Regions from separate parts of the Homo sapiens genome. Here region 1 is linked to region 2. The links come from fine-mapping of genetic effects on gene expression. A gene starts in region 2. The other region holds a variant in brackets. All regions are shown on one strand. Distances are between the middles of the regions. Region 1 overlaps LOC107986837. Region 2 holds the start of SMIM30 (small integral membrane protein 30).

The links. PIP is the estimated chance that this variant, and not a neighbour inherited with it, causes the effect.
Region 1: its variant is the best candidate, but not a certain one, in a credible set for the expression of SMIM30 in sigmoid colon (GTEx, PIP 0.62).

Annotation. Positions count from the first base shown.
Region 1 is chr7:113,144,585-113,148,985 of GRCh38, forward strand. LOC107986837 reads left to right here. Exons shown (of 4, transcript XM_047421162.1): 3 at 1,079-1,191; 4 at 1,456-1,857. The coding sequence ends at 1,542. Among named protein-coding and RNA genes, the nearest start is that of SMIM30, 28 kb to the left of the region's middle. The variant C/T (reference allele first, on the strand shown) is at 2,145.
Region 2 is chr7:113,115,816-113,120,216 of GRCh38, forward strand. It overlaps SMIM30 (small integral membrane protein 30), which reads right to left and starts at 2,739. Exons shown (of 3, transcript NM_001352688.2): 1 at 2,713-2,739; 2 at 2,253-2,346; 3 at 903-1,792. The coding sequence starts at 1,763. The coding sequence ends at 1,584. All of the region lies in intron 2 of LOC107986837, which reads left to right. RefSeq lists enhancers at 2,510-3,104, 2,999-3,138.

The DNA.
Region 1 (4,401 bases), 29 kb after region 2:
CCCATATTTCTTAAAAGGACATCTGCTCTGTGTGGCGCATGGCAGTGGGATGTATTGGGAAGAATCTGGATTTTGGAATCATACTGTGTTCAAATCAGAGACTCAGCTGTTGCAAAAATAAAAATGCATGTGCAAACACGTAACACACTGCTTGGCTTCAGATCTGTGATCAATACATGTGTTTCTTCATTATTTTCTTTCTTTCCTTCACTAAGAGAGATAATAAACAGTAATCATTTACACATATCTGAGAAAAGAAGCTTTGGAGAGAGAGCAACGAGTGTTTCTGGAACTGACCTCCACACAGAGTAAATTCAGAAATCAGCAGATCTACATTATTTATTCAAAGAGAGAACTGCATTGTAATCACTTTCCTGGATGCATGGGGTGAATGAGTGACAGCAAATACCTCAGTCATTGTGAGATGGCAACCTGAAGTAGGTGCATCTGAGAAAAAGGGCAGAGACCTCCCCAAAGGTCAAACAGAAGCAAGGCAGCAGGCAGCATTGCAGGGGAGGCAACTGCTGGGAAAGACACAGCAAGGAAGAGCTATTATGGGATGCCTCTCTGTGAGGTAGGGAGTGACTGTATATATGTTTTGAGACATCAGATCCTCCTCACCAAAGAGCCACTCTGGAAATTCTTGTTTTGACTTCATCCTTTAAGATTTTAAAAAGCAGTACCCTGAAGCTGTTTTCTTTGTTTTACTTTGCTTTAATGACTTAACAGCATTACAACATGGGTTTAAGTGCAAGAGAGTTTAGAAAACCTTTAGAAAAATAAGTCAAGCAAAGTTCAAAAGAAAACATGAATCTTATGCTAATTTTACCTGTAGGACTCAGGGCAGAAGTGGCCAAGCTTTTTGGCAGAAGGCACTGTTGAAAGGTATTGTGTGGTTGTGGCGGAGACAGTGGGAGGATGAAGTGAATCAGAAACTGTTGTTCTGTCTGGGATGAGGGGAAAATATCTGAAACTACTCCTTCATTGAGCAGAGGGCCAAGGATAGAACCCCAAAGAACCAAACTAAACTCAATCATAGCAAAACATCCTCTTTCTTTTTGTTTCTGCTGCTACACAGAAGAGATGAGGTGGGGATGGTCCATGAAGATGAATGACTGCTTCCTAAGACACTGTGGCGAGGAGGCTGTGGAAAGATGGCAGCAGCAGACTGTGGAGAGAAGTCAATTCACTGTGAGTGGTCAGACAATACCTGAACCAAGAAGACACATGGGACAACCTCTTGGGAACAGAAAGTTCAGAAAAGGGCTAAGAAATAGGATGGAGATAGGGATACTCAATGATCTAGTCATAAGGGATCAAAATGGGAATGCAATTAGGAAGTAGAAGGCCTGAGATAGACAGCAGCCACTGGGATTGGAAGCAATTTTAGGATGATTTCCCAAAGGGTAGAGATGTTCCAACAATAGCTTGATGATAAATTTTGTATTTTTTCAGGGCAGCTTGGCACTTCCCCAGGTAATCCATTCTCAGAGTTTCTGTTCAATCAAAAACTGTAGCTTCTTTGGTTTAGGAGTTTCCTGAGCCTGTCTCAGGGCAATAACGCCTTCTGGGTTAACTGGAGACTTCGTCAGAGACAGATGGGAGCTAACTCCAAAGAGTCATCATGATAACTGCGGTTGTTCAGATTCTTTATTTCTGGGCATCACATAGAATTTAGATTGGGACTCCTTTTCTATCTAACTGAGGGATGGGAATCATAATTGCATATTTAATTTTGTCATTAGAAATGATAATAAACTCATTGCCATTATACCACATGGTTTAAAAATAATCTGTTAGAGCATTTGTTTCTTGTTGTTCAATGTAACCAACCTTATTAAAGACCTTGTATCAACAGTGTTGTTTTGTTTTGTGGCATAATTAAAATCATATTTCTGACTTGTGTAACGTATAAACACATGCAAAGTTGTCATATTTTTTTATGAATACAGTGATAGAATATATGGGACTTTTGATAACTTACTGGTTTTTAAATGACAGAATTCATTTTTTTTTTGCATCCTGAATCAGAGTTGTGATTTGCTAAGTCTGGTATTAAAAAATAACTCATTTATCCAGAGCTGGAAGAGGTCAGTGAGACAGATAAGAACATTTCCTCAGTTTACATTCCAGGAGTGTGTCTA[C/T]GTGCAAAGCCTATAGAGTTGGAGGAAGCATGGGGAAGCCCAGTAAGGAGAAGATAGACTAGGAGAGGGATGAAATGGGCTGCTGTCAAAGACCAAATGCATCTGTGACTTGTATTACTGAGGAAATGCAGTATTTCAGAACTCTTTTTAAGGAGAGGACTATCTGGATCCACCAGGGCTACCTTCTTCCTAAAGATCTGCTGTGTCCTGCTGCTGGGTGAATTGCCTTCTAGTGAATTGCCCACTCAGGTAGAGTTCAATACTCTACGAAGAAGAGTTGTCTTAATAGAAAGAATGACTGTTTGGAATGACTTTGAGTCTCATTGGAGAGTGAGATCATGTGCCATGCCCTTCAGCACATTCTTGCCAATTGGCAGTGGATGAAAATTGGACCAATCCTCTGACTGGTCCTTGAAATTTCACAGGACAGGCTCAGCGTCCCAGATGAATAGGATTATTGGCATCAGTGACTTCATTTTTACTTCTTATATTAGTTTACCAGGACTGCCATAACAAAATATTGTGACTGGGTGGCTCAATCAAGAAAAATTTATTTTCTCACAGTTCTGGAGGCTGGATGTCATCCAAGTTCAAGGTACCTGCAGGTTTGGTTTCTAGTGAGGCTTCTCTCCTTGGTCTGCAGATGGCTGCCTTCTTGCTATGTCCTCACACAGCCTTTTCTCTGTGTGCCAGCATCCCTGTGTCCCTTCCTTTTCTTTTAAGGAAACCAGTCCTCTTGGATTAGGGCCCTACCTGATGACCTTATTTATCCTTAATTACCTCTTTAAAGGCTTCATCTCTAAATACAGTTTCATTGGGAGTTAGGGCTTCAACATATAACTTTTGGAGGACACAATTCGGTCCAAAAAACTTCTCATACAGCTTCTGTTGGTAGGGAACATCAGTAGAAATGTAGCATGAGCAAAAAATAAACCTGATATTTTTGAGGCACTGAGATTTTAGGTTTGCTTGTTAATGTAGCACAACCCCGTCTACTCAGATTAATAATCATGGCTTGTATTTACTCTGAGTTGAACAGCAACATGTGGTCTTGTTTAACAAGACAGGTCTTTTGGTAGGTCCTGCACTCCTATGCACCTACATATAATCAGGTATACCACATCCCCTCAGAAAGGATGCTTGAGAATCCTTTCAGGTGAGAGGTGCCAAGTGAAATTGCATCAATGTTTAACTGTTATTTATTGAGAACCCATTGTGTCAGACTCTAGAGATACAGTGGTAAATAAGACAAAATCTCCACCGCATTCCTCATAGCTCAAAGGAAGAGAGATATTAAACAAATAAACATGCAGATTAGTGTTTACTTAATACAATTTAGGTAAGTGCTGACAAAATAGTATATTTTATTTTTTCTTGTCAATTTTAGCTTCAAAGAGGACTGTTTTCTCATAAATGAAGCCTGGTATATCTAGAAATTAGGTGCCAATACTCCATGGGCACAGGCAGAGACTGAAAGAGTAGTGTCCTAGGCAGGATGGCTGAAATTGTGTCAGCTCTTTGCAGTCTGGTTTGGGAGTAATCAGCATGTAGATGATAACTGAAGTTATAGGGATGGTTGAGATCACCCATGTTGGGTGAAAATAAGGTAGGGTGTGAAAAAAGGGAGACCACAGTATGAGCCTGAGAACATCAACATTTAAAGAACAGGTAGAGAATGAGTTTCATTCAAAGTGAGTGGAAACAGAGCCCCTTGGGAGTTAAGAAGAAAGTAAAAAAAAGTAGTACTACAGAAGCCAAGTGAAGATATCATTTTCAGGAGTAGGAGAGAGTGGACAAACCTGTCAAGGATTAAGCAACAGAACAAAAATGCACACATGGGATTTAACAAGGAAGGGGTTATTGATGACTTTAATGAAAGTGGTGAAGGTAGAAACAGACCCAGTGAGTTGAGGCATGAATGGGAGTTGAAGAAATACCTGTGGGGATGTCTACAGCTCTTCTAAAATATGTGGTTGTAGTTATTTTAAGAGTATAATTGGATTTTTTTTTTAACACAAAGAGGATAAATGCTTGAGGGGATGAATACTGCATTTACCCTGATGTGATTATTACCCCTTGTATGCCTGTATCAAAATATCTTACATACCTTATAAATATATACACCTACTATATACCCACAACAATTTAAAAATATTTTTTAATGTGTCTGTAGAGGAGAGGAGTAAAGCAGAGTCAGTTGGGAAGAAATGAAAATGAGAAAATTAAGGGTGAGTTTTTACATTTTAAGATAGGAGAA
Region 2 (4,401 bases):
TTATGAAATGTTTAACTGCCAATTAATTTGAATAAAGACTGTTAGTGCTTCCTCTAGCAAAAAATCGAAACAGCTGTGACAAAAACAAGTGCATTCAGTTTCCATGTCTTTATTCTGTGATGCTTCTTCACTCCTTGTACACTTTAACCAAAACTTTCATGCAAGCCAAGTCAGCTCACTCTAGAATTACACCATAAACAGGACTTTAGGTTGCTAGTGCCTGTTTTTGGATAAAAAATGAGGCTCCCAATGTCATCTGGAGAGCTACAGATTGGAAAATGCATTTTAGGAAAAAATTTCACTACTTACCTCCAGTGTGACCCTAAAGTTTGATTTCCTTAGACTACTTTATGCTGGCTACAACTTGAGAATCAAATGAATCACTGAGGACCCTTGTTAGACATGGAGTTCCAGGCCCCATCTCACAGCTATACAACCAGGAGAAAGACCAGGGAATCAAAAAGTCTTATCAAGTGCCTGGAATGATTCTTGGGCTCAAGCAAGTTGGCAGTCTTCTTAAATTTGTAATGTGCATACAAATTAACTTGGGCTTTGGAAACGAATGCTGTTCCTGATCCAATTGGTCTGGGTGGGGCCTGAGATTCTGCATTTCTAACAAGCCCCAGGTGATGTTGCTGGCTTGAAGACACTTTAAGTAGCTAGGCCAGAGAGGATATTTCGTTTGGCTGGCGTACAAATCAGTTTAAGCCATTTCATTTTCCTTCTATATTTCTAGATTTTCTATCAGGGGCTTCTCTGACCTTAATGCTGCCCAGTTCTCATTATGTCTCTTCAAGCTACCGCAATCAGTTAACACAAGGCATCCTGCCCTTCTCCACTTAGCTCATATAAAAATCCACAATGGATACAAACAGCCCCAAATAAGAAATGGACACGAAACATTAACTTATAACATAATGGGTTTATATTTAATATAGTACTTCTCATCAGGAGGATGTTACTCAGTTAATATAAAGTTTTTTTTCAAAACATTAAATCTCTTTTCCATGTCAATGTCTATAGTTTTTTTTTAACATTAAATTTTTTTCCGCATTTCAGTATTAGATACACTGAATACATTTTTCTAAATGTTTTTTCCCTAGAGATAAAAGTTTTCCTTTTTGCCTGACTCTCTGATATCTAAATATAATATTAACTTGGGAGACAACAAAACAAAAATCTAATTTAAAAGACTCCTCAACGATTCAGGAGGCAGTGATTATAACCGAACAGTGGTGATTTCCTAAGATTCTGGGCAAGAACTTCCTTCTTCCTATTTCACATGCTTTGAGAGAATTCTAAGATTATGAAATATTACTTATGTAAATTTCAGCCATCTTACTTCTTTGACTACCTAACTAGCAAATTATAGGCTGCATTTTTCTGTGCATTATTTGTTGTAAAGAAAACATTTTTTTTTCAATTTATAAATGTATGTTTGTTGCCATTTCATGGAAACAATGAAAAATGTGAAACTCCCTTATTTACTGATTCTTGGAACCTTTCACACACCAAATCTCAGGTTTAGCCTCTAAAGCGCAAAGGTTTTCAGGGTGAGGTTTGACTCAGTAGGCCTTTCAAAGTCACATCTGTCCATTTCTTTTTCGTGCATATACCCCCAAGCAGGCACAAATGCCTGTAATGCTGAGAACCACACCTAACAAAAGGGCGATTGCATCACCGGCTTCTACTGCTTCCACAACAGGCAGCACCAAAAGCAGTGACATGAGGACTAAGGACAACTGTGTTGAAACTGAGGTCATGATGTTGGAATCTTGAGGGCTGAAGGTTCCTAGAAATTAAACATGGAAACAAAAAGGAACCATTAAAAATTCCTCCCTTTTCAAATGACAAAATGAACACATGACAAATAACAGGCCAGCCAATCTTTTGGATACTTTATGAATCATTTCCAATCCATCTCCTCATCTTATAGGTGGAAAAACAGAGGGACGTTAAAGACAGTAATTTGAGGTTCATCTCCCTATCTCGTGATAACACTCTAAACCCAGGAATTTTCCACGATAATGCCAACACCTCGTGCATCAACCAAACAAAAATTGAACAGGAGTTCATAATTAAGAACAAACAGAAAAAAAGCACGAGCCACTAACTTGGAAACTTAAAATATCCTAGTGGGTAAAAATTGTACATTTTCTTAGGGTCTCTCCCATCCAAGAAATGCAGACAAATTTGGCAAAAGTCACACAACATATAACTCTGCGAAGTTGTGGGGAATTAATAAGACTTACCAAAGAAATGGTATATATAGAATTCTATCTGACTTGAAATTTTCCCTTCCTGGAGCTCCGGATGCTGAGATTAAGAGGTTCCACGTGACACGACCTATTATTAGCATGGGGGGTGGGGAGGGGGCGGAGAGAAGGATTTAAAAATTAATTATTATTACTATTATTATTTTAAAGAGGCAGCTAGAGTCAGTGCAGAGCGTGGAGGCCATATGGACGGTAGGGGGATAGGTAATGAGTTGAGAAAAGTCTGTCCAACAGGGAACTAGACTTAAAAGTTGGTCAGTTCACCCACACAAGAAAAGGTAAAAAGAAACAGAACAGAGATAATTTCATTTCAGGACTTGATATTAAGATTTGAAAAAGAATTCGTACTTTGGCCCGGCAAGGTCCAAATTTGCTCCTGTTTTACAAATACACTGGTGCAACCTAAGTATCCTTTGGAGACGAGTTCGTACATTACCTTCTAGGAAGCAGCCATTACAGGAATGGCGAGGAGGGCGGAGTCTCCAAACTACATTTCCCACAATCCCTGCCGCCGCCGACTCCTATGATGCCCCGGCGCGTTCCCCCTATAAGTAGCAGAGGGCGTGACGGTCACGCTCTAGCGGAGGCGAAGAGTCGCGAACGCGCGGGACTTCCTTTCCCTGCCCAACGTTTTACTATTAAATAGATGGTTTCGTGTGTTTATATAAAAGCTCACTTCAAAATAAAAGAAATGATAGCAAGTGTTTTCTACCCTGTTGAGTCTGTAAGGCGCACATGTAATTTTGTCTTTTTCTTCGACTGAAATGACACAGCGGGGAGAGAGAACCCAAGTACAGCCCTCTGTTCCGGGTGCTTTTAAACCAGTGGCTTCCAACGTTTCTGAAGCAGGAAATCTCTGTCACCATCTTCCTAATGAAACATATGCCATTTATTAATTTTTTAGTCAATGGGGAAAAAGCGCGGTTAATAAGACATATCGTAAAAGGTTAAAAAACATTTGTAGTGCAAAATAAAGTTTAGGAAAAATGGGTTTAGCCCTGTTGCAGAAGATCTCTCAGGATTCAGGTCCTAAAGTGACAATCTATTCAGGAGTGCACTGCGGTGATTCCTTCCCACCTATGTTTTTGTGAAACCTCAGCCCCAAATGTCCCTACATATTTGTGAAAAGATGTAAAAATACTGCTTTTAAATCATAAAACAAGAATTAGTTATTTGTATATGTAAGTCGTAACCTTTCTGAAAGGCGCTCTTTCAATTGTCTGCTAATTGTGAACTCCTTACTGAACCTTTCTAGTCATCTGATCTTCTGAACTCTTTCATATTTACTGATTTGAAAATTTATTTGCTATCCTTACATTATAAATTATTAATGATGAGGGTTGGGTGTGAAGCCACCTGCCTGGTCTGAAAGTCCCCTGGTTCAGTCTGTTAGATAATGCAGGTACGTTCAGTTCAATGCCAATAATTAGCATGTATTCTTGTGTTGTCGGTTACCCTTTTTCTTACACGTTCCTAGTCTCTCTAGCAAAGATTTATATTCTTGGCTCCTAACCGGCACCCAGCAGGTGCTCAGTAATGTTGCCTAATAATAATAATGATTTGACTAGATAAATATGCCAACAAGATCTTATGAGAGACCGAGAGGTGCCAAATAAACCAAACCAAGGTGACTAGAAAATTGGAAATCTGAGAATAACTGCACAATAACGTCAGCATTGTTTCTCTAACCTTGATTATTTTAACAAGGTTTTGTTCATTTCATCCTTTGTTTTGAGCTACTTTCGTGCCTTTGTAATCAATTATATTTGGAATAGGAGTTATATTTTTATAGCTTCCAAAATATTCTCTCATATCCTACTGTGAACATTTTGTTTTTCCCTACATGTTTATTTTTCCTTATGTGTTTATTTTAGTTAGCTGAAGTCAGCAGAGACTACTTTAAAGTTAGTATTGTTACAGACTTGTTTCTAGGCACGTCAACATTAAAGATAATGGTTTGGTTTTAAGTTTAAAGAGTCTGTAAGTGGCAAGAAACTTTCTCTTTAAATTATGATGGTTTTTATTAGTTTGTGAAATATATATTATATTGGGAAATGTCGATCTCGGGGGCGGGGTTCCAGTAATAGCTGATGTAGTTGCAAGGATTAATTTCTGGAGTACCATG